Regions from separate parts of the Homo sapiens genome. Here all the other regions are reported to be linked to region 1. Evidence: microRNA targets listed by miRTarBase, many of them from high-throughput screens and not tested one by one. Region 1 holds a microRNA gene; each other region holds the end of a gene's coding sequence. Distances are between the middles of the regions.
Evidence for each region. The annotated mature microRNA hsa-miR-454-3p reads UAGUGCAAUAUUGCUUAUAGGGU and lies in region 1 at 2,162-2,184, opposite strand. An mRNA with a match to its seed (bases 2 to 7 or 8) in the 3' UTR can be bound and repressed. Matches are read on the target gene's strand: a 7mer-m8 pairs with bases 2 to 8, a 7mer-A1 pairs with bases 2 to 7 and ends in A, and an 8mer does both.

Region 1 (3,000 bases):
AGATTTTTTGCAAGACAATTATTAAACATAGGCATCATTACAAATTAAATTATATAAATTAGCCGGACACGGTGGCTGAAAAAAATATTTTCTACCACACCCATCCTGAAAAAATATATTTAAAAAATATATTTTTAAAATATATAAAATAATTTTTAAATATATATTTTAAAATTTTATATTGCATATTTAATTTTATATTTTAAAAAATATATTTTTAAAAAATATAAAATAATTTTTAAAATATTTTTTTAAAAAGACAAGAAAAACAGCTTCTGCTAGATTTGATGTGTACTTGTAGTCCCAGTTACTTAAAGAGCTGAGGCAGGAGGATTGCTTGAGCCCAGGAGTTCAAGGCTGCAGTGTATTATAATCTCTCCTGTGACTAGTCACTGCACTCCAGCCTGGGCAATATAGTGAGACCCCATCTCCAAAAGGAAGGGAGGAAGGAAGAAAAAAAAAACAGCTTGTGGGTAGAATGTTATCCTCTGTGGAAAATTGTATAGAACGTCTAATAACACACAGGGGCAGTACTGACTTATTATTATTATTTAGACCGAGTTTCGCTCTTGTCACCCAGGCTGGAGTGCAGTGGCGCGATCTCGGGGCTCACTGCAACCTCTACCTCCCAGGTTCAAGAGATTCTCCTGCCTCAGCCTCCCAAGTAGCTGGGATTACAGGCGCCTGCCACCATGCCTGGCTCATTTTTTGTATTTTTAGTAGAGACGGGGTATCACCATGTTGGGCAGGCTGGTCTCGAACTCCTGACCTCAGGTGATCCACCCACCTCGGCCTCCCAAAGTACTAGGATTACAGGTGTGAACCACTGTGCCTGGCCAGTACTGGCTTATTAGTGAAGTCAGTGGGCTAGGGAATAAGCAGGGGGCAAAAAGGATGCCAAAATGTTGAAAGATAGAAAAATAAGCTTTTTTTTTTTTGTTTGAGACGGAGTCTCACTCTGTTGCCAGGCTGGAGTGCAGTGGCACAATCTTGGCTGACTGCAACCTCCACTTCCCGGGTTCAAGCGATTCTCCTGCCTCATCCTCCCGAGCGGATGGGACTATAGGCGTGCACCACCATACCCAGCTAAGTTTTGTATTTTTAGTACAGACAGGGTTTCACCATGTTGGCCAGGCTCGTCTTGATCTCCTGACCTTGTGATCCGCCCTCCTCGGCCTCCAAAAATGCTGGGATTACAGGTGTGAGCTACCACGCCCAGCCGAAAAATCATCTTAAATGTCTGCTCTGAACCCTTCATTTTATAAATGAGAAAATAGCAAAGTAACTTGCCTCTAGTTCTATTTCCATTACTGTTTTCTTATGTAGTTAGACAAAGTTATAGATGATATTTAAGCCATTAAGAGTCACACATGTGGAAAAAATGTAAATTCTTTTTTTTCTTTTTGAGACAGGGTCTTGCTTTGTTGCCCAGGCGAGTGCAGTGGCACAAATCACAGCTCACTGCAGCCTCAACCTCCTGGACTCAAGAGATTTGATTCTCCTGCCTAAGCCTCCTGAGTAGCTGGGACTACAGACGTGCACTACCAAACCCAGCTAATTTTTGTATTTTTTTGTAGAGACAAGGTCTCGCTATGTTACCCAGGCTGGACTTGAACTCCTGAGCTCAAACAATCTTCCCGCCTTAGCCTCTCAAAGTGCTGGAACTACAGGTGTCAGCCACCACACCCATCCAAAAATGTACATTCTTCACCTAAAATTAAAGTTTTTTTATGTTTTAAATTAATATCACTAAAGTTACAAAGCTAGTCAACTAAAAATTCCCTCTGAACACAACATGGTAGTATGGTACAGAAAAATAAAAGAATTCGGATACATGGTAGAAATTCTAGTCCTAGTATCACTAACCAGCTATGTGTCCCTAGGTTAAGTCCCTCATTTCTTTGGGTCTCTCCTATCAAATGAGTTGGAATCTAAGATCCTTTTCAATACTAAAATTCCATTATTTCTTTATACTACAAATAAACCCATTTGTCAAAAAGAAAAGTTACCTTCTTCTAATAAATTAAAAATTTACATTTAAGCCTCAGATTTTAATGTTTATAGTGAAATCTAGTTCCTTGTTTTCTTCCTAAAGATGACTTTTGCTTGTTTCTGCTACATACTTTCTGCAGCCTGCCCATTGTTCTTTCCAAACACCAAAACCCTATAAGCAATATTGCACTACTCAGAACTATTTACACAGCAGAGACAATATTGATAGGGTTCTAGGATCTGGTGATAAACAGAATTTTTTTTAGTTAGATGGCAGAAATTCACTAAGCAATTATGATAATCTAAAACTCATTAGTGTCTGATAAATCGCGCAAATTTGATTCTGATAAACATCATTCACAGCCCTTTCAGTTACAAATCAGCCTCCTGGAAGCCTTGGAAATCAGTGAGGTTATTGTTTAACTTTTTAGGGGCAATGGAATATTTAAAATAAAACTAGTGATTTTTGTAAAGCCCAAGATATTCGTATTTCAGAAACCAGTTTTCTCTAAAATCAGTAATAAAAATAAAGGGGAAAAGTTTTATACTGATCTGAAAAGTGGTATATAAAATACAAAATTAGGTGAAAAAAGTCTATGGAAATCATCATGAAAGCACCCCAAGGGAAACCAGGTTACATTCTGCCAGTTAGATTTCTGATTTTTTCCTCCTATTTTGGAATATTTGCATAATAATTACTGGTTGAGCATCCCTAATCTGAAAATTCAAAATCTGAAATGGTCCAATGAATTTTGGATTTTGGAGCATTTCAGATTTTGGAATTTTGGATTAGGGATGCTCAACCAGTTGTTTTGTTTGTTTGTTATTTTTTGAGACAGCGTCTCACTCTGTTGCCTAGGCTGGAGGGCAGTGGCGCAATCTCAGCTCACTGCAACCTCTGCCTCCAGGCTCAAGCAATTCTCATGCCTCAGCCTCCCGACTAGCTGGGACTACAGGCACACGCCACAACGCCTAGTAAATTTTTTGTATTTTTGGTAGAGATGGGGT
Region 2 (4,318 bases), 31 Mb from region 1:
GAGTTGGAATATGGCCCTTTCGGACTCCAGAGTATGGTATTTATTTCTTCACAGGTGCTCTCTTTTCTGCTGTGGCCTGTGTGAATAGCCTGGCCATGCTGACGGCCTCCGGCATCTTCAACTCACTCTACCCAGCCACTCTGAACTTTATGAAGGGGTTCCCCTTCCTCCTGGGAGCTGGCCTCCTGCTCATCCCGGCTGTTCTGATTGGGTAATGCAGGGCCCTGAACCCATGCTCATAATGGAGCCCTTTCTCTTAAAAGTTTCCTCTTCTCCTCCCAACCAGAAATGGCAGCTTCATTCCTGGAATCCTTACCCTCTGGGTGTCTTGTCCCAGGTTGCCCCTCTCCTTGCAGATGGCTGCCTAATCCTCCAGGAGCCATTTTCCAAGGGCGAGATGGCGAGCTAGGTGGAGGAAGGATCAGGCTAACATTGCTGCTTGGCAAGGCTGTGTTCTCTCTCCCAGTTCCCCTATTTCCCTCCATTCCCATTTTATAGATGGAACTATGGCAGCAGAACTGTGTTAAAGGGAAGGCCAGGAAGCTTTGTCAGCTAGTTGTGGCTGGGCCACAGGCTAGCTTGACCCGCTGACTTTTTCCTGTATGATATTAAGAATTATATTTCATGGCCGGGCGTGGAGGCTCTTGCCTGTAATCCCGATCCTGTGGGAGGCTGAGGCAGGAGGACCACTTGAGCCCGGGAATTCAAGATCAGCCTGGGCAACATAGCAAGACCTTGTCTGTATAAAAAATTTAAAAAATCACCCAGGCATGGTGGTATGCACTGGTAGTCCCAGCTACTAAGGAGGCTGAGGCAGGAGGATCACTTGAGCCCAGGAGTTCAAGGGTACAGTGAGCTATGATTATGTCACTGCCCTCCAGCCTGGACAACAGAGCAAGACCCTGTCTCTTAAAAAAAAAAAAGTTATTTTCCAGAGCCATGTCCCTGGATATTGTCCTCCAGCTCTCAGCTTCTCAGCTTGGGGAAGGAGGAGGTTCAGGAGAGCTACCTGGACCAGCCCACCCCAGTAAATCCTGTGTCACTTCTCCAGACAGGCCTTGAGGGTTCCCCACATGAAATCCAAACTCTCTCTCTGGTCTCTCACAGGATGCTGGAAAAGGCTGATCCTCACCTCGAGTTCCAGCAGTTTCCCCAGAGCCCCTGATCTGCCTGGACCAGAAGACAGAGGGCAAGAGGAGCAAAGTGAACACCAAGCAACTGGAGGTCTGCAGCTGGAAGCCCAGCCCACAGCAGGACAAGCAACTCTTGTCTAAGGGCAGTGCTCTCTTTGGACGAGGTAGTCAAGAGAGACCAAGGCACCACCCCATCCACAGCTGACCCAGCCTCTGTCTAGGATCTAGAATCATAACCCACACAGGCCCACTGCAGGACAGGTGGCAGAGGAGCTATTTGGGACAGGAGTCAGTTCTCCCTTTCTGCTATCCATCACTTATAACCCCACAGGCCAGAGGAGAGGTCCTGAGAGAGGTGACACTTCAGGGACCAGAGGCAGCACGAGGGCTGGCATCTCTCCTTCCAGCCCAAACTGCACAGCCCCAACCAGGTTCCCAACACGTGTAGCAGTCATCAGCCATTCCTTAACAATGAATGTGGTACCTGGTTAGTGCCAGCCTTGGGAAGGAGGGAGGGAGGTAAGAGGGGCTTGGTGATCTCTGGAGGAAGAGTGTTGCCTTTGCTGTGGTTGGGGAATCGATCCTTGGCTATGGCCTACCCACTCCCCTGGCTGAAGAGTGCCAATCATTACAAATCAGCTTCAGCAAACTGAAACAAACCTTCTGGTGCCTTGGGCTTTGGGGCCCTCTGTTTTCCTGCTCCCAGTCTGCCTGCCATACGTTAGACAACAGAAGCTGCTGGGCTGGGCAGGAGCCCTGAGCTGCCTGGTGGATTGGTACCAAGTGGGGCCAGCCAGGGCTTCTACTGACTCGCTGTGCAACCTTGAGCAAGCCCCACTAGGAACGGCTAGATCAGCAATGCCCCAAATTGTTGAATCGTGGTGATCACATTTGGATGGACAAGTTAGGAAACTTAGCTGATTCTCTGAGATACTTCCCACTTCCTCATACATTCTACAATGAGATGCCTCTCTTCATGGGCCTGGGGAAAGGATGAATGAGTGTGGCTGGACTTTTGACCTTTAATGTCCCTGAGCAGTTCTTGGCCCTTGGGGAGAAGTAGGGGGAGGATCTGGCTGACTCAGCCCCAACCGAGGGGTAGCAGCTGCAGCCCAGCCAAGCAGAACACCCTGGCCCTACAGACCTGTGTCTGAGCAGGCTTTGGAGGAAAGGCCACTTCTGAGTCCTCTGTCTCAGGAGAAGCCAGGCCTAGGTGCTTGACCTGGTGATCTGAGCTGTGTTTGTCCTAGTATGGGTGGCAGTCACCTCTGAACACACTGGCCTTGGCTTAGAGGAGGCTTGTGACTTCAGCTGTTCCAGCTGGGGCTGGATGCTGGACTCTGATTCCCTCAGAGAGACAGAAGATCGGGCAGAGGTCAACCAGAAGGCCACACAGGGCAGTGGACAACAGTGGAGGGTATACCAAATAGAAATAAAACGCAGGAAACCTCTCTGAATACTGCCCTTGGGGACCTCAGGAGGGAGTGGGACTGATTGGAGACAAAGAGCCAGAAATCATCCCCTGGAGATACTCAGACACTGTATTGTTATTGGCGCTGTCCTGTGAGGGCAGTGTCCAGGCTGCCCTGCTTGTCATATCCATGCCCTGGCTCTGGCCCCGGTGAGCACTTGTGCTGCATGAGGAAAGGAGGATCAGGTGGGGTCAAAACCAAAGCATCGAGGCTGGCACTGGCCAAGACAGACTCTGGCAGGGAGGGGAGTGGAAGGAAGGAGCCCCAAACCTGGAGTGAGACCTTTGACTTTCTGATGATGTGGCCAAGAACTAGGAGTCACCTGGCCAGCACAGCCAAGAGTGGGGCTGGGGGCGCAGCCAGCTTTAAGGTGTCAACACCTGGCCCTTGCGGGGAAAGAGCCTTCAGCAGCCCCCACGGCCTGGAGCCTGGGTTTATTGGAGGGTGCTTTCTTACCCTCTGAACCCAGTGGAGGAGGGGGCAATGGGATATTCCTGCTCTGTATGGCCTCTGGGTCAGCTTTTTGTTGCAAAATCCTATCCCCCGCTGCTAGATTCTTTGAAGCAAGGGAGAAGCAATAGCCCAGCCTCAGAATGATTCTCAGGAAAGCAATTCCACTGCCAGTGGACTGGGTGCCAGGAGGCCTAGGTCTGGATCTGGGGCTGCCACTAATGACAGGAAAGTGGGCTTATCCTCAACCTTTCTGAGCCTCAGTGTCATTATCTGTAAAATGGGGATGATAATACCAGGTAGAGTTGCTCTGATGACTGGAGACCATGGAGCGGAGTGTTTGGGAAATGGCAAAGATTTGTGAGGGCTTCGTGCTTTAGAGATTTGCTACCCTTAACCACCAGCATCAGCTCACCTGGGAATCTGTAAGAAATGCAGAGTCCTAGGCCCCACCCCAGATCTCCTGATTTTAACAACATTCCCAGGTGACTTGGATGCATGTTAAAGTTGGAGAAGCTGCCCTAAGTGACAACCCTTTGCCTTTTCAGGACTTTGCCTCTTTCCACAGAGCTGCAGGTTCTGTCTAGGCTGCTTTTACTGCCATGGGGGCTGCCTGGTCCCTGAGTAAGCAGTGGGTAGCCCTGGATGGCTGAGGGGCTGGGGAAGCCAGCTGGGCCAGACCAGGAAGGAGCCTGAGGCACAGCACCAAGGCATGGGGTAGGGTGGGCTTTGAGGCACGGCCTCCCCATGCCCAGACCCAGGCCCAAACAGGAGGCTCCTGTGCACCAGCAAGTGCAGCAAAGCTGGCTGCAGTGACAAGGAAGTCAGAGGGAGGGCTGGTTTGCCTCAACCCTCGCCCTGGATGTGGCAAAAGATACCACACCGAAGGAAGCTGTAGGGGATCTGGGACTTAGTCAGGCTAGCTAAGGGCACTGAGTGATTACAGGGCAAGGCCACAGAGCGGCAGGAAGTTGTAAGTGCAGGGGCCAGGCACAGTCTGAGTGGAGAGCCATGATGGCACTCATCCCTGGCTGGCTCCTGGGCCCAGGCCCTTGCTCAGAATACAGTGCCCAGGCCCGCCTGGGCATTGCCTTAATTCCTGTCTGAGGCTGCCTTCCGTCATCCTCCTCAAGCTGACTGCTATCAGCAGGAGAAGGGAATGCAGAACCACCCCCACCCCAACTCCAGTGTCTCCAGAACTGAGCAGGGACCCTCCCCATGACGGAGACAGACAACCCAATGGCAGGGCCTGGGGGAGTTCTA
Region 3 (4,318 bases), not on the chromosome of region 1:
CACATTCCAGTGTGAATGGGGCGGTAGAGGTCATGATGAGTCAAGAGGTTGAAGGGGAAGCAAAGCTTTCTTTTCAGAGGTTCTAGAGGGCCCAGTGAAAGGATAAGCTGGGTCAGCAGAGGGGACAGCTTGAGCCTTGAGCAGGTGTGACTACTGAGGTCACTAGTGATTCTGCCCTTCCTAGCCATGTGGCCTCAGGCAAGTCACTGCCCACCCCCCAGCATCAGCCTAAAATCAGAAAATATCTACAGCCATGGGCTGGTACGCCTCGTGGGCCTGAGAGAGCAGGAGTTGCTCAGAAAGAACAGGAGCTGGATCTGAACAGATGGGGCAGGGCAGGGGGCAGGGATGCACCTGTGAAGACAGAAGGTGGGTGATCCGGCCACCCCCTTCCTCTCCTCACTAGTGACCTGGATGAGGAGAAGGGGCCTCAGCAGAGGAAGCACGGGCAGCAGCCCTTACCTGAAGCCCATCAGCCTGTCAGCATTCTCACCAGCCCTGAGCCCCACAGACCACCTGAGACATCCTCCGCCACTAAAGGAGCCCCCACTCCAGCTTCAGAACCCTCAGTCCCTCTCTCACCTCCCTCTCTTCCTGATCCTTCCCACCCACCCCCCAAATAAACCAAAAGTGGACACAAGTGTGAATCTTAAATTATTATTATTTCTTCCTGTCGCTTACACCCGAGGTGGGGGAGTTGGGGTGGGGGGAAGGGAATAGGAGGGGGGGAGTGCCTCTCCCCCTAAGGCACTGACTGGGAAAGCCGAAAGTAGGGAGAAGGGAGGCCACATTGTCCCCACTTTCTGGGGCTGGGCCCCAGGTCTCCCCAGCCCTGGGCTCCCCCCATCACCTGAAATGCTAAGATGAGGCCCAGGACAACCCGATCTCCCCGCCACCCCAATATATTACATCATCACTTTTTAAATAGATAACAGGGACTGGTCCCGCTACCCCCTCCCTGTGACCCCTCCCCACTGTTAGGGGTACCTGGGCAGCTGTGCAAATGGGCATGGGGGTGCATGGAAGGGAGGAAGAGCACCGGGCCCCTGAACCTGCCCCTTTTAAGGAGGGGGAGGAGCCGTCAGGCCAGGAAGGGGAAATAGTGCAAGGCAGAGCCCAGGCTGCAAAAGGGGTCCAGCACCCAGCGAGGAAGGGGGGGTGTCCCCCACCCCCAGCAGAATTGGGTAGTTAAAAATCTGAAACTAGATTTCAACAAGACCAACAGAAGAGGCTATGTACAGAATGGGGGTGGATTCAATCCTAAGAGCAGAGTGGGGATTATTCTCCCCTGCCTGACAGGAAGCCCGGCTGGCAAGGATCTGGGAAGGGGATCACTTTCCCACAGGTCCGCAGCCCCTTCCCCTGCGGCCAAGCGAGAAGTTCTGTGCCCACTGCCTTGGCAAGGGGGCGCCGCTCACCAGCTGGGGTGGATGAGGAGCGTGAAGACAGCTCGCTCCAGTGGCCGCGGGGGGCGCTCGCCCACTCAGAGCATGGCCGCCAGATGGCGCCGGCTCGCCCGCTCTCCACAAGGCTCTTCCAACCCCTTACCCTGTCCCACACCCTTCGCTGCGCCAGCCCGGGGGCGGCGTGAGTCAGGGGCGGCAGCGGTGGCGGCGGCTCCGGCTCGCACCTGGGCGGGGAGGAGATGGGGAGGAGGAGAAGAGGGTAGGACGCCGCCCGGCCCGCCCTGCCCTCTGGCCCCGGGGAGGGAGCGGCGGGAACAAGACATTCCCTGCCCAGGGCCGTGGGGAGGGAGGGCTAGGGAGGGGAGTGGAACGGAGCGGCTCCCCTAGCTGGGCGGGGCCCCTCTACTGCCCCCAGGGGCAGGCGAGCCAATCAGGCCACCCCGCCCCCTTCTCCACGACCCCATGACTCAGCGCCGGGAGCAGGGCGGAGGGGGACTGGGATGGCTCCTTCCTTACAGGCCCAGTCCCCCAGTCTTTCAAGCTTCCACCTGGCTTTCCCCCACCTACCCTTCCTTTGCCGGCCCCCTTTGCATAATTCACTGCCAGGAAAAAGGAACAGAAACCAGGAAGGAGGGGTCTCGAAAGGGAGGGGCAGTCCTTCACCCCCTTACACAGCCAAAACCCCCAAGGGGCATAGGGGCGGGGCAAGGCTTTGGTCCCAAGCCCCCACCCCCTAGAAACCCGCATAGCCGAAGTGGGACCCACAAATTAGAAATACATTATTGCTTCTACTCCCCAGGAGCAGCTGGGGACAGGGACCCCACTTTTACAATACAGCTGTAAATATATACACAATATATGTATCACTCCTTGGGGGATCACCCCAATTTGGGGAGCCTCTGCCCCAATACCTTCTTAGCTTGGAATTGGAATGAGGGCTCTGGGAGGAAGGGCTGATGCTGATGCCAGCAAGGCTCCGTGCCCCAGACCCCTGCTGTGTCTGTCCTGCGTGCTCCCACTGCTTGGCATGGGTGTCCCCGGCCTTGTGCTGCTTCAGTCTGGCCCTCGTCCCTCTTTAAGAGGACTCCATGGCACCTTCAGCCTGGGGTGTGGTGGGTGCCCCTTCCTCCTCATCGTCATCAGGGGGCCCTGGGGTAGAGACCGGGGGCCCAGTGGGGGCTGACTGCTCCCAGAATCGAGCTAGAGAGAGGCGGAAGGTGTCCAGGTGGCCATTGGAGAGGTCGAGGCCAGCGGGGGATGCAGCAGCGGTAGAGGGTGGTGGGTAGTGGGGTGGTGCATCGTCCTTGCGGCGCCGTCGGGTGCGCACCTCCAGGCAGTTCTGGCCTTTGAGGTGGCGCTGCAGGTGGTCCTCCTTGGCGAAAGCCTTGTGGCACAGGTGGCACTCATAGGGCCGGTCCCCTGTGTGCAGGTGCATGTGGTTCTTGAGGTCGTAGCTGTGCAGGAAGCGGGCTGGGCAGTGCGGGCATGAGTAGGGGCGCTCTCCCGTGTGCTTCCGCATGTGGATCTTCAGCTTGTCGTTCCTGGCACAGGCAGGGGTGAGGGGCAGGGAGGTGTTCAGGATGGGATCCCTGGCTCCTCCTGGTCATCCCACCCTGGCCTTGTCCCATCCCTGTTCCTCACCATTTGTTACCCCACTATTGCCCCAGGAGATACCCTGCTAGCTCACCTCTAGCTTAACTAGGCCTTGTCATTATCCACTCCTCTGCTTCCAGCACTGCCCTCCTGGGCACCGAATCCTCCATGCTCCAGATCCACCCCCTGCTGGCTTGTTTTCTTCTGCTCTCCTCACTCCAGTAACCCACCCATGCCCCAGTCCCTCCAGGACCACCTACCACCACCTCGGGTCTCCTAACTTCTTCCCCATCTCCTCCCACCCTGTCCCCTACCCATGGCCCCTGCCGGGCCCTTCCCCCCTTGCTGCTCACCTGGTGAATCGAACACCGCAGACCTCGCAGGCAAAGGGCTTCTCGCCTGTGTGGGTCCTCATGTGGCGAGGCAGTTTGCCTGCCCCATGGATGATCTTGTGGCAGACAGGGCACTCCTGAGGCATCTGGGAGCGGCGTTTGCGCACCAGCTTGTCTTGGCTGTCCAGGCCTGGTGCCAGGTTGTCCTGGTGCAGGGAGCTTAGGTAGGCCATCAGGTCAGGATCGATGGCATCCTCATCTGAGCCCAGCTCCTCTGGGGACAGCGGGGGCCCGCCACCCTGCGCCAGCCCATAGGCTGGGGGATATACCAGCTCCTCTTCTTCTTCCTCACCCTCATAGGGTTCGTAGCTCTGGGGACCCTCAGGAGGGGAGGCAGTTCCTGTGGGAGGGCTGTAGCTGTCCCCCGGCCCACTGCCCCCACTGCTGCCCACTCTGCCCGCCACCTCCTCCTCCTCATAGGTCAAGGGATGGGCGGGCACTGTGGGCACCTCAGGGACTAGGTGGTTTGCTCTGGCCCCCTTGGTTTGCAGGAAAGCTTTCCGGGGCTTGCGGCTGCGGCGGGCAACAGGCCGAGGTGGCGGTGGCGGAGGTGGTGGGAGGGGCACCTGTGGAGGACTGTCTTCACCATTGGGAACTCCAGAGGCCGTGGCTGTGGCAAAGGCCTCCAGATACTGGCGGGCTCGCTCACAGTCATCCTCGTCCGGGCTGGGAGCTTCTAGCCCACTGCCCTGCAGAATCTCCATGCAAGCAGCGATGACACACGGGATCTCCAGCAGGCGGGCAGCCTGGAGCACAGCTGGCATGTTGGCGCTGCTGGTGGTCAGTGTGGCTGTATAGGCAAATTCAAGGAGGGCGCCTAGTGCCTCTGGCCCTACAAAGTCCAGCTCACACACACCGGCCCCTGCTCCCCCAGTGGCCGTCCCGCTACCCCCGGCCCCCATGACAGCTCCGCCACCGCCCTCAGTG
Region 4 (4,318 bases), not on the chromosome of region 1:
AGAAGGGGAGCTGTGCAGAGCAGAGGTCCAGAAGTCCATGCAGGGACCCCCCAGTCGGACCACAGCTGTGGGCAGGGCAGTGGGCAGTGTGGGCCCCAGAGTAGAACGCCCCTGCTTGCCTTCCGTTCCACATGGACAGTTCCCTTCCTAACTTCCCTGTAAAAGGAGTCGAAGTCTGTCACCCTATAACGAGTGCCCCTGCCTGTGCCCATTGTAGGTTCACAGTCAAGTCCAGCTGCCTCTTCAGGAGCAGTGCCCGTGCTCTTGCCACCGCGGTTTGCCTGGCAGGCCCTGAGGCCGGGCAGCTCTGAACATGTGATTTCTACACACAGGGTGTTTGAAAGGGAGGGTCAGACCAACAGGGTTTGAAGCTGGACTGGCTCCCCTTGTTCTGGAGATGGCACCACTGCACTCCAGCCTGGGCGACAGAGCGAGACTCTGTCTCAAAAAAAAAAAAAATGCAAGAGAACTCTTCCTGCCAAAGGCAGGTCCCTCCAACTGGGCATGGCAGGGCCAAGATGGTAAAATGTAGCCTGCAACTCAGACCTCTGAATCCCACCTGCTCACGATTTGTGTCCCTGCACTTGGTATTGGGTGAAAGCAGCAGCTGGGACTTCCTTGTGGAGAGAGCCATAGAGGTAATTTACAGAAGAGTTGAGAGTTTTAAGTAGAGCGGCCTCTGTCTGCTGTGTCACAGTGATGGCGCAGAGTGCAGCCTTGGGAATGATGGCTGAGAACTGGTTTGTAGAAAGTGCAGCCCACCCTGCTTTGACACTTGCCTATGGACAAGTGTAGCAGGCAGGTGGCCAGAACTGCTTTGTCCTTCCTCTGCTGACCTGAATGTGGACTTGGCCCCGTCATAGTGACTGGCCCAGGGTTGGCTATGGACAGGTAACTTGTACTTGGGATGCAGCTGAAGGTGGCCAGGATGCACCAAGAGGCCATGGAAGGTCCCATGAGGTGCCAGGGAAGACCCACACCTGCTCGCCATCTTCTGAGTGGGAAGGAGGAGGGTGGCTAGTGGACCCCACCAGAGTCGAGGGCTGGGCTGTTTGGTTCTAAAGGCTTTTCTGCTGTGTGTGTCCCCAGATGAACGACAATCTCCTTGAGAGCTGGAGCGACCTCGACGAGCTGAAGGGAGCCAGGAGCCTGGAGACAGTGTACCTGGAGCGGAACCCCTTGCAGAAGGACCCCCAGTACCGGCGGAAGGTCATGCTCGCCCTCCCCTCCGTGCGGCAGATCGATGCCACGTTCGTCAGGTTCTGAGTCCTTCTTGGCTCCTCATGTGGTCCCTCTCCTCGGAAGAACTGCCCAGCCACGGGTTTTTAACCCACCTGTTGCTCCTGAGGTCGTCACTATATCAACAGTCACAAACCCAATGGCAATAAAGGCACTGACGATAGCTGGCGCGCGCGACGTCACACACCATTTTCAGATGCCGTTGCAATTAAATCTTGCCACACTGTCCTCCTGGGTGATTGTTGACAGTTATTGTAGCCACAGAGAGAACATAAGACACGTTGCGTTCATTCGCTAGAAATCCCTGTTTCCTTCTCTCAGAAGGCAGTCACAGTCCCTACCTGAGTCGTGTGAAACACAGGGCCTGAGAGTGCTTTACAGGCATTCACGTGCTGTCCGAGTGGCATTCGGGGGCTGGCCTAGCTGGCCCTAGTCCTGGTGTGCAGGGTTCAGGCAGTCTTGACCTGCAACAACCGAGGTTTTTTAGTCTTTTAACCCAGCCATTTTCAATTTTTTAAAAATTAGGTAAGTTAAAAAAGCTGGGTAAAAGCTGACTCAGCCCTGTGTGCTTGTGTTCCTTAGAGCTCTCCTTCAAAGAGCGCCGGGCAGGGCTGACTGTTTTCACGTGTGCCCGTCAGTTCTCGCCACATCCCTTGCCTGTGGGTGAAAGCTCAGGTGTGGGGAGGGTGTCCTGTGTCCCACACGGTGCTGTGCTGCTGCCAGAATACGAGTCCCATTGAGCCTCTCCAAAGACGGCCTCCAAGGATCTGAACTCTTGGCCACTGGTATAGTGGCCTCCTGTTCTCACCCCATTGTTATTTTGGCTTTTTTAATATAAAATGTACATTGACAGACACCCGAAGTCTGGATTTAATGCTACCAGGGCATCGTCACCTCCCAGGGTCTCAGATTTCTCCTCCTGCAGAATGAGGGCCACATCATGTGGTCACCAAGGTCCCTTCTGCCTCCGGGACTCTAGACTCTAGAACCGTCTACTTGAGGAACCAGGACTCTAGAACCGTACTGTCCAATGTGGGCGAGGCTGCAGTGAGCCATGATTGTACCCACTCCAGCCTGGGTGACAGAGGGAGACCCTGTCTCAAGTTTTAAAAGGCTCCAAATTAATACCCAGCCATCTGTTCTTTAACAGACATTTTTACAAACATACAAAAAATGTGGAAGTGATGAGGAAAGGTATGCTAAATCCAGCACAATCCTAATCAAAATGCCATTTGATTTTTTTTTTTTTTAAGGAGTCATTCTCTGTCACCCAGGCTGGAGTGCAATGGCGCAATCTCAGCTCACTGCAGCCACCACCTCCCAGGTTCAAGCGATTCTCCTGCCTCACCCTCCCTAGTAGCTGGGATTACAGGCACCCGCCACCACACCCAGCTGATTTTTGTATTTTTAGTAGAGATGGGGTTTTGCCATGTTGCCGGGCTGGTCCCAAACTCCTGACCTCAGGTGATTCGCCCACCTCAGCCTCCCAAAATGCCGGAATTACAGGGGTGAGCCACCGCACCCAGCCACCATTTGATTTTTTGAGACACATTAAATTCTAAAATTTAATTTTTTTTCCTTTTTTTTCTGAGACAGAGTCTCGCTCTGTCGCTAGGCTGGAGTGCAGTGGCGCGATCTGTGCTCACTGCAAACTCCGCGTCCCGGGCTCAAGCGATTCTCCCGCCTCAGCCTCCTGAGTAGGTAGGACTACAGGCACATGCCACCACACCCAGCTAATTTTTATATTTTTAGAAGAGACGGGGTTTCACCATGTTGGCCAGGATGGTCTTGATCTCTTGACCTCATGATCCACCTGCCTCTGCCTCCCAAAGTGCTGGGATTACAGGAGTGAGCCACCGTGCCCGGCTTTTTCTTTTTCCTTTTTTGGCGAACAGGGTCTTGCTATATTGCCCAGGCAAGTCTCAAACTCCTAGGCTCAAGCTGTCCTCCCACCTCTGCCTTCCTAAAAGCTGGGATTATAGGCATGAGCTACCGTGCCCGACAAATTCTAAAATGTATATGGAAGAAAAAAGTCAACATTGTGATTCAATTCATTTTGAAAAAGAGCTGGGAGAGACGCTTTCCTACCAGATCCTGAGTGCTGCAAACCCACAGTGAGAGTGTGGGGGGAGGCCTGACCTAACAGCACCAAGACAGGGACACCTCAGCAGGAACCCAGGGGACTCGGGGACTGGGAAAAGTGTCCGGGGGTCGGGGAGGGGTGGACAGTGTCCTCATGATGTTGGCAGAGTGCACTATGTGGAAAAATGAACACTGCCCCTCCCTGGCATCACACACAGGATAGGCTCCAGAGCAATTGGTGATTCATGGGCGGTGGTGAAATAGGAAATCAGTAGAAAATAATGTGGGAGACTGGGCATGGTGGCTCGTGCCTGTAATCGTAGCACTTTCGGAGGTCAAGGCGAGTGGATTGCTTGACCTCAGGAGTTCAAAACCAGCCTGGGTAACACGGTGAAAACCCATCTCTACTTTAAAAAAACACAAAACTTAGCCGGGCGTGGTGGCAGCCACCTGTAGTCCCAGCTACTCGGGAGGCTAAGGTGGCAGAATCGCTTGAACCCGGGAGGCAGAGGTTGCAGTGAACTGAGATCTCGCCACTAGCACTCCAGCCTGGGCGACAGAGTGAGACCCTGTCTCACACCCCCAAAAAAGAAAAAAGAATGTGGGAAGGCGGATATGTGAGCTAGCAGTAGAGAAAACTCCCCAAGGCCGGGTGCGGTGGCTCATGCCTGTAATCCCAGCACTTTGGGAGGCCGAGGTGGGCAGATCACAAGGTCAGGAGTTCGAGACCAGCCTGGCCAACATAGTGAAACCCCGTCTCTACTAAAAATACAAAAAATTAGCCGGGCATGGTGGCAGGCACCTGTAATCCCAGCTACTCGAGGAGGCTGAAGCAAGAGAATTGCTTGAACCCAGGAGGTGGAGGTTGCAGTGAGCTGAGATTGCGCCATTGCACCCCAGCCTGGCCAACAGAGCAAGACTCTATCTCGAAAAAAAAACTCCACAAACACAACTGTAAGACAAGATTTTGATGGGTTTATTTACATAAAATTTTACA
Region 5 (4,318 bases), not on the chromosome of region 1:
TAACACAACACATTAGTAGATTGAAATGCTGGCCAATGGCTTAGTAAATCTGTTTCTCCTCCCTCTCAGGAAGACATCTAGATTTATGCCTGAGTTCTGGTAAATGAAATGCAGCTGGAAATGTTGCATGGCGCTTTCTTTTCTTTTCTTTTTTTTGAGACGGAGTCTTGCTCAGTCGCCCACGCTGGAGTGCAGTGGCGCGATCTTGGCTCACTGCAAGCTCCGCCTCCCAGGTTCACGCCATTCTCCTGCCTCAGCCTCCTGAGTAGCTGGGACTACAGGCGCCCGCCACCACGCCCGGCTAATTTTTTGTATTTTTAGTAGAGACGGGGTTTCACCGTGTTAGCCAGGATGATCTCGATCTCCTGACCTCGTGATCCGCCCGCCTCCGCCTCCCAAAGTGCTGGGATTTCAGGCGTGAGCCACTGCGCCCGGCCTGCATATCACTTTCAACTCTAGCTCATGAAGCTTTTTTCTGTGCAGTCATTTACTCTCTCTCTTACTCAGTGGGAGATGGCAGAGCCACAAGATGGAAGTGGTGGTTGCTTGAATTTGGAAGGCTACCTCAAGAACATTCACACCTGTCGCATGAATAAGTTTCTAAAGCTACTGCGATTTTGAGGATTGTTACAGAAGTTAGCCTCATACTGACTAATCCTGGTAGCAAAAGGGCATTTGATAAAATTCAGTACATATTCCTCATTTTTAAAAACTTATAAGATGGAATAGGATTCTTTTAACTCATTAAGAAATACCTATCTTATGTCAAATGCCAACATTGTTCTTCATGATGAAGTACTACAGGCATTTTCTTTAAAATAAAGAAACAAGACGAGGATGTCTACTGCTACTACTATTAATGTTAACTGGCTACAAGTTCCAGCTAATAGCTGAGGAATAAAATTACCATTATTTGAGAGGAAAAAATCATCCACCTAGAAAATCCAGGAAAAATCAACTGCAAAATTATTAGAGGGATTGAGGGACTTTAATAAAGTCATCTGCTACAAAATAAATATTACAAATTAATGTTTCCTATATGATCTTTAAAAAGTAAATTGTGTATCTTGAAATACATTATATATAAAATAATCATAAAACAAAAAGGTACTATGAAAAAAGAACAAAATTTTTAAAATGCTGTGAAATTAAAAAATGATAGCCAAAAAAACTTCAATCAAAAATTAAAAAATACATTTGATAAAGTTTCAAAGAAAAAAATCCAAAGAGATTGGCAAAAGGAGAGGAAAGATGAGAAAATTAAAGGATCCATCCAGGAGTCCAATATCTGACTAAAAGGTGAGAAAAAGCAAGCAGAAGGAAGAAAATTATAAAGAACATTTAGCTGATTTGGATGACTAAGCTTTATTCAAATTTCCTTAGTTTTTATCTAATGTGCTTTTTTCTTTTCCAAGATACCACATTACATTTAGTTGTCATGTCTCCTTCAGCTCCTCTTGGCTGTGATAGTTTCTCAAACTTCCCTTGTTCTTGAGGATTTTGACTCCTTTTGAGGAGGACTGGTCAGCTATCTTGTAAAATGTCCATCTGCTGAGATTCATCTCATATTTCACAACTAGAGTGAGGTTATAGGTTTTGGGAATATCAGAGGTAAACTGCAATTTTCATCACATCATATGAAAGGTAACACTCTCAACATGACTTACCTCTCTTTTGACTTTGATCGCCTTCTGAGTAGTGAGGTACCTCTCGCTGAGTTTGTCAGGTTTCTCCACTGTAAATGCTACTCTCCCTGTACCACCTGTACTTTGGATTCTTTGGAAGGAAGTCACTATGTGCTGTCCATTCTTATAGGTGTGTAGTATCTTATTGTTTTCCTTGCTTGTACTTTTAAGTTACATGATGTGTATCTAGTAATACATCAGCAGTACCTGGGGATCTTTTTCTCTTGCTTGTGCCAATTCTTGTTCATGTTTTAATGAACAAAAAATGGTCTTTTTTGCATACCTGATTGTTTGATTGTATGATGAGCACTGTGGTACTTTTAGAGTATATAAAATAACATTTTCTTCCTCCAGAGAAGATTTTCATTTACCTGGTGCTTGAGCTACCTTAATCTAATTTCAGGGTTTGAACTTTTTCTATCTACCCAGACAACTTGAAGCAGGGCTGCTTTATGTACAACTCACATGTACTTTTAAGATCCAACCCTCTGAGGTCACAATTCTAAATGTAGGGTGGTTGCAGACCCCTTGTCTTCCAGCCCTTTGAGGCTGTCAATAGCACTGTTCCACTTCTCAGCTGCCCTTTCCAAGTCATCAAGTGCTCCTGGGCAAAACAGCTCCAAATGTTGGGCTTTGTAGTGAGAATTTCTCTCTTCTCCCAGATCTTAACCTGGCAATTCCTCACTATCTTATTAGTTTTTTAATGTTTGGGGTTAATATTATTTTATTTCTTTTTTTCCCCCATCACAGAAATCTGCCTATTGTTTTATTTCATCCACATATTCTAGCCTTCTGTTTTGGGAGGTTTGTCTGTATCACCTAATACACTGTTAGGAGTGAAAACTGGGTCCTGGGTTCCTTTTGCTTCACCCCTCACACTCCAGATCTTTCCCACTGGCTTTAAAAAGTTACAGTTAATATAGCTTTATAATTTACATTTTTGGAAAGAAATAGTGACAAAAAGCAAGAATCTTGACTGCATTCTCCTTCAAGGTTAAAAAGAAGCCTCTGACTTACCAGCCATGGAGTCACTAATCTAAAAAATTATACTACTTCCTTGGCCAGAACTACTATACCTAACCACAGAATACTCCATAATTCTTATACAAAGATAATTTTATTAATGAAAAGATCACACAAAACAAAGTTTTTGTATTCAAAGTTGTCTGTTTAAAATGTGGAAAAGGTAATATTTACAACATTTCCCATACAGTACATAGTTTTTGTGCCTTAACAGAATGCTAAATAGAGAAAAAAACCAAAAGCAAATGCTAAATTGAGAGAAAATCAAAAGCATCAGAAAATCTTGCCCAAAGAATAATACTTAATAGGAAACAAAATTAAGAAAACTCCTTAATATTTTAAAGTATGTTGTATAAAAACGTTGTGTCTTGTTTATTAAAACTACCTTTTTTCCATTTGATTGGCACTAATATCGCTATCACACTTTTTAATGTTCAGCAAAATCCTAGTGAGCTGCCGAAATGAATTCTACAAAATGTCTGAGAAAGGTACTGTATAATACAAAATGTAATATTCTAAATGTTAAAAAACAAAAGTTAAAACAAAAAATATAAGCAACTGTAAGTGGTTATAATACAATCAATGGGTGGTCATGAAACATTAAAAAAGGGAAGTCAATTGCACTTGGCCTAATATACAAAAGACTAACATTTTGTCTACTAACCCTTTAGGACATTTTATTTTAAATATGCAGAAGGATCAGTGAGCAGCATAATACAATCAATAGTGGACACTCTTTGAGTAAGCACCTTATTTCAGTTACATAATTTAGATCTGTGAAATTCCTAAAACGAGACTATAAAAATCACACATTTTAGATGGTAAGGTATCAATAAGTGGGTTTTTAAAGTTAAATTCCTATTATAAGACTTTTTGGTATATCTTTTTTTACAGTATAAAAGAAGACTATTTTACAATTTTCTTAGAAATTCAGTGTAAAAGCTACCAAAGTGCTAAAATATCACAATAGCATGATAAAAATACTTGAATAGGATTTCAAAAAAGTTCAAATACATATAAGCTTATTTTCAAATATGTATAAAAAGATACAAGGATAAGATTTAAATACTTCAGCAAAGAAATATCTTGATTTTATATCAAAAAAGTAAAATAGCATAGTACATCTTAAAATACTCTTACCAAGAGTAGAATCTTCATAAATAGAAAAGGAAGATTCCTCTAACTCTGTCCTCCCACACTATTAAAAAAATATTATTAACCTGCACATTTTCTGTTTTCAGGTATATTGTTGTCATTAACCTTTGTGTGAAATGAGTCATATTATTCTTGAACTCTATTTTTTCCAGTATAACAGTAGGCAATGCAACTTTAAGTGCAAAAGAAGAATGTAACAGTGATTCTTACAAAACAGTGCATAGGTCACTTCCAGTGTAACACAAATTTGCTTCTGAGTAACGAGAGAAAATGTTCTTCAAGTATCTGAATGACAACCACCTCCCTGCTCTTTTCTCACTCCTGAAACCGGGTGAACAAGCAGAGATGTGGAACCTTTGAGGCTGCTTGGTTCTGAAGAACTGGGGACCTGCAAATTGTTGCTCTGTGCCAGGCCAGTGTCAGTAATATCACTCTTTGGACTAATCCTAGATAAA
Region 6 (4,318 bases), not on the chromosome of region 1:
AAATAACTAAATGAAATCACTACCAAAATGTACACTTTGGATTTATTAAGATTCTAGAATTTAAAAACAGGAAAAGGTGCCATTAGTAAAAACTCCATCACTAACATTTTGGTACCACTCGTAGAGCGTCACATAAATATTCAGACCATGATAACTCAGTGCAGGAATGTTATCAAATATTTCCATGCAATCTGGAACTAGGACCACAGCTGGCAATTGGGGGTCTGAAGGCCCGACATCCCTTACGCTGCTTCCTACATCTTGACAACAGGAAGGCCAAGTGATACTAGGTAGTGCACTACAACAGTGAACATAAGCCAGCCATCTGTTTTTTTGCAAAGTATAGTAAAACAAACAAACAGAACATAGACCACTTCAGAGTAAACAAACATAACTTTCTTCAAGATGTAGGAAAACTGTATATTCAAAACCAATCTCAAACTTTAAACAACAAAAGATATCAAACATTTTAAACTGTACAAAGCAAATTAGCAGGATTTGAATATTGGCAGTTTTAAAATGTCACCCATCCAAAACACAAAACAGGGAGATAGCCAAGTCTTAGCTCCATCCTAATCAAAGCTGTCATGCAGATCCAGTTCCACTCTTCTCATCTCCAGCAGGTACTTCACTCAAGGAGGTGACACCCAAGGGGAGTAGATGAACCAGAAACAAGAGTGCCACATAGAAGGAAGAGAGGAGACCTTGGACCTTAGCTACTGGTTAGCTATTCGACATTGATGATATTCAGCGTTTTCCCAAGTTATTCTTTCTCGCTTCTCAGCACATAATTTACATTATGCATACTATATGCCAGAAACTGTTAGTGCTTGACATGCAGTCAGTTAATTTTCACAACTGGGTGAAGTAGGTTTCTATCATTAGCTCTATCTTAGGGACAAACAAACTGAAGCACGGAGAGGTTAAATTGTATTCCTAAAGCACTACACAGTGAGCAAATAGATTCAGACCTGTGCAGTCTAACCCAGAATTAGCTCTGAATCACTCTACCATTCGGTCTACAGGACAATGTAGACCAGACTACAGGACAATGTAGATTTGGTCTACAGGACAATGCAGAGTGCCTGTGTTTCAGGCACTCTCATGGTGATTTTCCACACAGGACGGCTTTTGATAATAGAAAGGCCCTCTCTTTCAAATGAAAGGACTTCACTGATGGATTAACAAATTCTCACCCATTCACCTGTGTGAGCCAAATACTAGATCTACTTTCTTAGTCTTCATAACAAGCAGGACGATAACCATAATTTATAATGAACACAAAACATTGATCTAGTGTTCAAAGAACTTTTGCACACTTGTTCTCATTTAGAAGAATGAAGTAATCTGGAAACATAGAATAGGCATACACTTTGGCTTTAGGAAGAACTCTTACAAAATCAGAGGTTGCCTTATGTAATACCACACTTTACCTTGAGCAGGTGGATAGCCTGGGGGTTCCTGTTATACCTCAGTCTTGGTCAGTTCTATTTGTTCCCCTGTCCTTCAGCAGTGCCCTTAGGCTTGCTTTAAACATTAACAGCATTCATAAGCATGGTTTCTAGGGTCAGAGCCCAGCCTCCCTCCACCCACCCGGCTCCCTACACACCTTGACAGTGCTCTTTGAGATGCCTCAGTTGTAGTCTCCTTGTAATTGTGCACAGTAGACGTCTGAACGAATAGACCAGAGTCCTGCAAACGTGATCTTGAAATCACTATTAAAAGAGCCTTTGCAGAGATCTACTCAGGAAAATTTTCTGAATAGACAAATGCTTTTAAAGGGGGTTCTAGACAGCCCATCTTCTTGGCCTCCTTCTGCAAAGTAGGACTACATTAAAACCTTGTCACAATGTGACCTGAGCAAAACCATTATCAAGTGATCTAGTTGTCTTCAACCATACAAAAGAAAATTGACATGATTTCAGGATAGGTTTAGAAAAATAACGACCAGCGAAAGGAAAAAAAAAAGCGGGGGAGGGGGTTCCTAGAGAATTTAAGAGGCTAATATTTTAGCAAAAATTTAAAGATGCTCTTTATGATACACACATTTCTCATTGCTTTACAAACTTTAAATGTAACACAAATTCGTTTTTCACACTGTTTTGTTATTTGAGGTAAGGCATTCCTGCCACACACAGCAATGACTTGTCCTGGAAAACCAGGGAGGCTGCAGGTCCTACTGTTCCTTCTCTACTAGCTGTGGCTCCACACTCTCACCTCTACCAAAGAAAGCATTTCAGAATTTAGGAGTGGAAATGATGACAACATTGAATAATCCTAATTTTTTTTTTGAGACAGTCAATGTCGCTCAGGCTGAAGTGCAGTGGTGTGATCTAGGCTCACTGCAACCTCCACCTCCTGGGGTCAAGCAATTCTCCTCCCTCAGCCTCCCGAGTAGCTGGGATTACAGGTGCCTACCATCACGCCTAGCTAATTTTTTGTATTTTTAGTAGAGACAGGGTTTCACCATGTTGGCCAGGCTGGTCTCAAATTCCTGACTTCAGGTGACCCGCCCGCCTCGGCCTCCCAAAGTGCTGGGATTACAGGCATGAGCCACCATGCCTTGCCAATGATTCTAATTTATATTTTTAAAAATTACCCTATAATCTTAAAACTTTTAACTGACTAGTATCCAACCCTTAAACTTCATAACAATCATTTCCAAAGTGGAAAAGTCACTGGGATATGGGGACAGTATGATTTGTCTTTATACTTTTATTTTTCTAACATCTTTTTGTTTTCTAGTATACATGTTAGCACAGGAGTATGTATATTACTTAAGTATGCCTATGTTGGGGTGCAGACATAATTTCTTTTTAAATGATAGGATGCAAAATCAAATCTGTTTGCATACCAGTGAAGAGGCTATTTCTCAATCTTGGCAAACTAGGGGGTGCATACCCCCTTCTTTTATTCAGTAGCTTCCATAAGGATGTAACTTACGGAAGTTATATCCTTCCATAAACTGATAGGCTATCCAACCAGTGAGGAAAACTGATAAAGTGGCTTCTGAGCTCCAAGTAGCAGTTAAACACAACTAAATATATCTTGAAAGTTTGGAAAAAAATTTAACAGTAAAGGGATTCAGTAGTTATTCAGTATAAGGTTTGGAATTCAAAAACTCCAGCCATTACAATAGACATTTATTTAAAGTAAAACATCTTCAGACCAAATAATTCTTAAAATTGTTTGTTTCAAGTTTAACCATCTTCATAACAGCTGCATCCACAGACTTCAACTACATGATTACTTCTTTGCCCATTCTTCTCTTTCTTTTCTTTCCCGAATAACCTCTTTCAGATACGGTTCAAGGTAGAAATTTTCCTAAAGAATGAATGAAATATTATATGTTACCATCACGTACTGATATATCCCAAACACTCAACAGGTCTTCAATAACAAGAAAAAAGCAATTACTTTTGAATTTCCAATTTTAGAAAACATATTCTCAACCTAAGAACTATCTGCTTTTTAAAATGTCAAATCTGTGGTGATGGTGTGATAAGTTGCTTTGATAGGTTATGAGGGGGAAGTCTTTTCGGGAAGAAAAAGAAATGAATGTCCACAGGCCTTTGCCTAGTTTCAATGCAGTTCAAGGGGTGAGAGTTTGCTTCACAGAAGCTCTTCTTGGGATCTGGAGGGACACTCAATGGGCTGATCTTTTCATCTAAGTAGGAAGCAGAGTGCAGAGCTGGAACAGCAAAGACCTGGGAGGCAACAGACCTGGATTTTAGTCCTGGCTCTCTATATTAGAGACTTGCTTAGTAATTTCAGAAGAATCATTTCACACGTAAGACTCAATGTGGTTTTCTTCTAAAACGGAAATAACATTTGCTTTATTAACCTCACATATTTATTTGACATGACTCAGAGAACTCTAACACTATGCAAATGAACATGTTTCTCTTGTTTCTAAAACTCCATCCTTAATGAGCAACACTGTCAGGTAGATAAAGCTGTGCTACCTCTTCATATTTGGTCCACTGCTCTTTAGGCAAGATCTGATGCTTCAAGTTCAGGTCCAGTGCCCTCTTAATGCGAAACATCCTGTCATTATAAAGGTTCTCAGGAAGTCTTCTTATGGCTTCTTTTACATCTTCATCCTCGTATATTGTATCATCTCGCATTAACCCTATGATAGATGACAAAGTTAGATTGCACATGCATCTCAAAAATCGCGGTTTTTTTAAATTAGTAAAATACCTTTATGACTTATAACTTACAACTTTTGGTGAACTATCGAATTCAAATCACTAGGTTCAATGGAAATTCAATGCATTTCATACATTATAGGTTGGTGCAAAAGTAATTGCAGTTT
Region 7 (3,000 bases), not on the chromosome of region 1:
AAGTCATGGAGTTGGCCCAAGTTCTGACCTCCCTGGTATGCTTTCCTCTGAAGAAGTGGGGTCTCTCTCATACGGGTTAGATATGTACAGCAAATGCTTTATTTCCTTGCATTTCTCATGAAGACATCACATTTCATGATGCTACACTCTTGGCCTAATCTGCTGGTCCCCCTTTCCCCCCCAGCCTGCCTTTTCACCTTGTCTCTGGATGGATCAGGACCCTTGACTTCTCTGGCTGTTGGTGACGCCATCTCCTTATTGTGTGCAAGTTTTAACAGAGGAATTCACTTACTCAGAATGGACCACAGCCAAGGGCTGGAACTGCAGGAAGTGGCAGCATTCTGAGGCCAAGAGACACTCACTGGACAATATCAAACCATGGCTCCTCCTCAGCATGGCTTTGTGTCTTTCCCAGTTATCTTGAGGGGAGTGGGATGTAGGGCTGGTATTCTTTGCTTAGGTTCATTTACAAGATGTATCAGTGTTGTAAGTCCAATAATTTAAGTCCAGTGATTCAAAATCAGGTATAGAGTCCAGAAACATGGACTACACATAAGGTTCTCTATTTAAGTTAAATACAAATGCAACTTTTTAGTGAGCTTTTAGGACTACTCTTCAAAAAAAGTGTATTGCTCAGAATGATGACCTGTAAATGTAAGAGTGGCAGGCCTCTGTCTGTGAAAGTCAGAACACAGGGCTCGAGCCTCTGGAACTGACCCTTTGCAAGTCTTTACAAAAGAAAAAAGGCAGTGGGGAGAGAGAGTGTTTTGGTTACATCAGAAATAATTGAGATGGGAAAGAATAGTGCAGCTCCATAGAGGAGACGGACTGTAGACAATGAGATTAAGCTTCAATCACTGCTCCTCAGCAATGTGAAGAATCAAAGTCAGGGCAAGAAAGCGAAAGCTTGGACTTCTATTCAAAGTGGCAGCAGAGTGGGAGGGCGGTACCCTTCTAGCCCAGTGCTGCTGAGCTTGTGTGAAAATCAGACCTGAGATGGCTTGAAGCAGCCAAGAACCACATGGGCATTGCCCAGAATTACAGGAGTTAGCACACCAGCTCTACAGATAAGAAAACATTGAAATTCAAAGATTAAGGCCAAAAATATCTCACTTGCAATTTTAATATTTTCATTTGGATTTATATAAATGAAACATATATATGTTTTGGAATGGCCAGAGTGAGGCAAAGGGGATCCCTGAAATAACATTAGAACATACAGGAAAAACGAGGCAGGCAGATCACTTTAGGTCAGGAGTTCAAGACCAGCCTGTACGTGCGTGCCTGTAGTCCCAGCTACTCGGGAGGCTGAGATGGGAGAATCACTTGAACCTGGGAGGCAGAGTTTGCAGTGAGCTGAGATTGTGCCACTGCACTCCAGTCTGTGTGACAGAATGAGACCTTGTCTTGAAAAAAAAAAAAACAAAAAACCACATACAGGAAAAAAGAGAGGGATGGAGTCAACTGTGCCCCAGACATTAAGCCCCCTTCAGTGAGGAGGGGCAAGGTGCTCAGGCCTGCCTGTGTGGCCCCCAGGAGTCAGACCTCAGCCTCATGCTCACTGGTCCATTTTCCTCCAGGGAAAATGGAGTTCTTTCTGCCTTCAGAGATGCCCACACATAAGGCACATGAGGCTGTTGGTGACACCATCACCAACACTGGAGATTCCCTTTCTGACAAGTCCCAGCCAAAGAAAGATTTTGCATTTGTCTTCTCTGTCCTCTGCTTGTCTCTGATACCAGTGACTGACAGCCACCTTCCTTCTTCCCTCTCTTGGTGTGATCATGGCTAACTGCAGCCTCAATCACCAGGGCTCAATCAATCCTCCCTCCTTAGCCTCCTGAGTAGCTGGGACTGCAGGCATGCACCACCACACCTGGCTAATTTTTTGTGTGTTTGTGTGGTCTAAAACTCCTGGGCTCAAGTGATCCATCTGCCTCGGCCTCCTTAAGTGTTGAGATTACAGGTATGAGCCACCACATCCAGCTGAGAGTCTGTTCTTAAGCTAGTACAAAGAGTCAGACCCGACTTTGAATCTCCACTTCTCCATTTAGCTGGATGATCTTGGGCAAGTTATAAAATCTGTTTCCTCTTCACTTTATAACGTGGGTTTCATGATCATACCTCGCCACAGGGCTGTTCTGAAGACTGGACATAGCTATTTTAAATGCCAGGAAAGGCCAGGCGCAGTGGCTCAAACCTGTAATCCCAGCACTTTGGGAGGCCGAGGCAGGAGGATCACCTGAGGTCAGGAGTTTGAGACCAGCCTGACCAACATGGAGAAACCCCGTCTCTACTAAAAATACAAAAATTAGCCAGGCGTGGTGGTGCATGCCTGTAATCCCAGCTACCTGGGGAGCCTGAGGCGGGAGAATCGCTTGAACCCAGGAGGCGGAGGTTGCGGTGAGCCGAGATTGTGCCATTGCACTCCAGCCTGGGCAACAAGAGCGAAACTCCATCTCAATAAATAAATAAATAAGTAAATGCCAGGAAAGGTGGTGACAAATGGTAGCCATAATTATTTATTGTCCTCTCTGTCCAGACTAAATGTTCCCTTTTCCATATTAAACATTTACCATTCTGCCGGACGCGTTGGCTCATGCCTGTAATCCCAGCACTTTGTGAGGCCTAGGCGGGCAGATCACAAGGTCAAGAGATCGAGACCATCCTGGCCAATATGGTGAAACCCCGTCTCTACTAAAAATACAAAAATTAGCTGGGTGTGGTGGTGCCCGCCTGTAGTCCCAGCTACTCAGGAGGCTGAGGCAGGAGAATCGCTTCAACCGGGGAGGCAGAGGTTGCAGTGAGCTGAGATTGTGCCATTGCACTCCAGCCTAGGCAACAGAGAGAGACTCTATCTCAAAATAAAATAAAATAAAATAAAATAAAATAAACGTTTACCATTCCTTGATCCTTTTTTTTTTTTTTTTTTTTGAGATGGAATCTTGCTCTGTCGCCCAGGCTGGAGTGCAGTGGTGCAATCTCGGCTCGCTGCAAGCT

Region 2: the mRNA of SLC46A1 is a reported target of hsa-miR-454-3p. The part of its 3' UTR that is shown has no 7-base or 8-base seed match.
Region 3: miRTarBase lists ZBTB7B as a target of hsa-miR-454-3p. Seed matches in the 3' UTR shown: 8mer at 1,101-1,108.
Region 4: the mRNA of PPP1R7 is a reported target of hsa-miR-454-3p. The part of its 3' UTR that is shown has no 7-base or 8-base seed match.
Region 5: miRTarBase lists FZD6 as a target of hsa-miR-454-3p. Seed matches in the 3' UTR shown: 7mer-m8 at 4,041-4,047.
Region 6: the mRNA of UQCRB is a reported target of hsa-miR-454-3p. Seed matches in the 3' UTR shown: 7mer-A1 at 292-298.
Region 7: the mRNA of WDR31 is a reported target of hsa-miR-454-3p. Seed matches in the 3' UTR shown: 7mer-m8 at 2,423-2,429 and 7mer-m8 at 2,823-2,829.

What each region holds. Positions count from the first base shown.
Region 1 is chr17:59,135,626-59,138,625 of GRCh38, forward strand. It overlaps MIR454 (microRNA 454), which reads right to left and starts at 2,247; the gene lies at 2,133-2,247. The region is part of intron 1 of SKA2 (spindle and kinetochore associated complex subunit 2); the gene reads right to left.
Region 2 is chr17:28,396,503-28,400,820 of GRCh38, reverse strand. SLC46A1 (solute carrier family 46 member 1) reads left to right here. Exons shown (of 5, transcript NM_080669.6): 4 at 55-211; 5 at 1,108-4,318. The coding sequence ends at 1,165. It overlaps SARM1 (sterile alpha and TIR motif containing 1), which reads right to left. Exons shown (of 9, transcript NM_015077.4): 9 at 1-4,318. Among named protein-coding and RNA genes, the nearest start is that of SLC46A1, 7.6 kb to the left of the region's middle. RefSeq lists enhancers at 2,236-2,325, 3,090-3,773.
Region 3 is chr1:155,014,849-155,019,166 of GRCh38, reverse strand. It overlaps ZBTB7B (zinc finger and BTB domain containing 7B), which reads right to left. Exons shown (of 3, transcript NM_001256455.2): 2 at 3,353-4,318; 3 at 644-2,947. The coding sequence ends at 2,482. DCST2 (DC-STAMP domain containing 2) reads left to right here. Exons shown (of 15, transcript NM_144622.3): 15 at 407-640. The coding sequence ends at 623. Among named protein-coding and RNA genes, the nearest start is that of ZBTB7B, 14 kb to the right of the region's middle. RefSeq lists a cis regulatory region at 1,820, a silencer at 1,382-1,851 and an enhancer at 1,748-1,892.
Region 4 is chr2:241,181,558-241,185,875 of GRCh38, forward strand. It overlaps PPP1R7 (protein phosphatase 1 regulatory subunit 7), which reads left to right. Exons shown (of 10, transcript NM_002712.3): 10 at 1,090-2,095. The coding sequence ends at 1,266. All of the region lies in intron 2 of LOC105373971 (a long non-coding RNA gene), which reads right to left. Among named protein-coding and RNA genes, the nearest start is that of ANO7, 5.0 kb to the right of the region's middle.
Region 5 is chr8:103,331,332-103,335,649 of GRCh38, reverse strand. It overlaps FZD6 (frizzled class receptor 6), which reads right to left. Exons shown (of 7, transcript NM_003506.4): 7 at 2,784-4,309. The coding sequence ends at 4,141. Among named protein-coding and RNA genes, the nearest start is that of SNORD173, 25 kb to the right of the region's middle.
Region 6 is chr8:96,227,809-96,232,126 of GRCh38, forward strand. It overlaps UQCRB (ubiquinol-cytochrome c reductase binding protein), which reads right to left. Exons shown (of 4, transcript NM_006294.5): 3 at 3,966-4,132; 4 at 1-3,324. The coding sequence ends at 3,247. Among named protein-coding and RNA genes, the nearest start is that of UQCRB-AS1, 5.3 kb to the right of the region's middle.
Region 7 is chr9:113,314,094-113,317,093 of GRCh38, reverse strand. WDR31 (WD repeat domain 31) reads left to right here. Exons shown (of 11, transcript NM_001012361.4): 11 at 185-3,000. The coding sequence ends at 345. Among named protein-coding and RNA genes, the nearest start is that of RNF183, 12 kb to the right of the region's middle.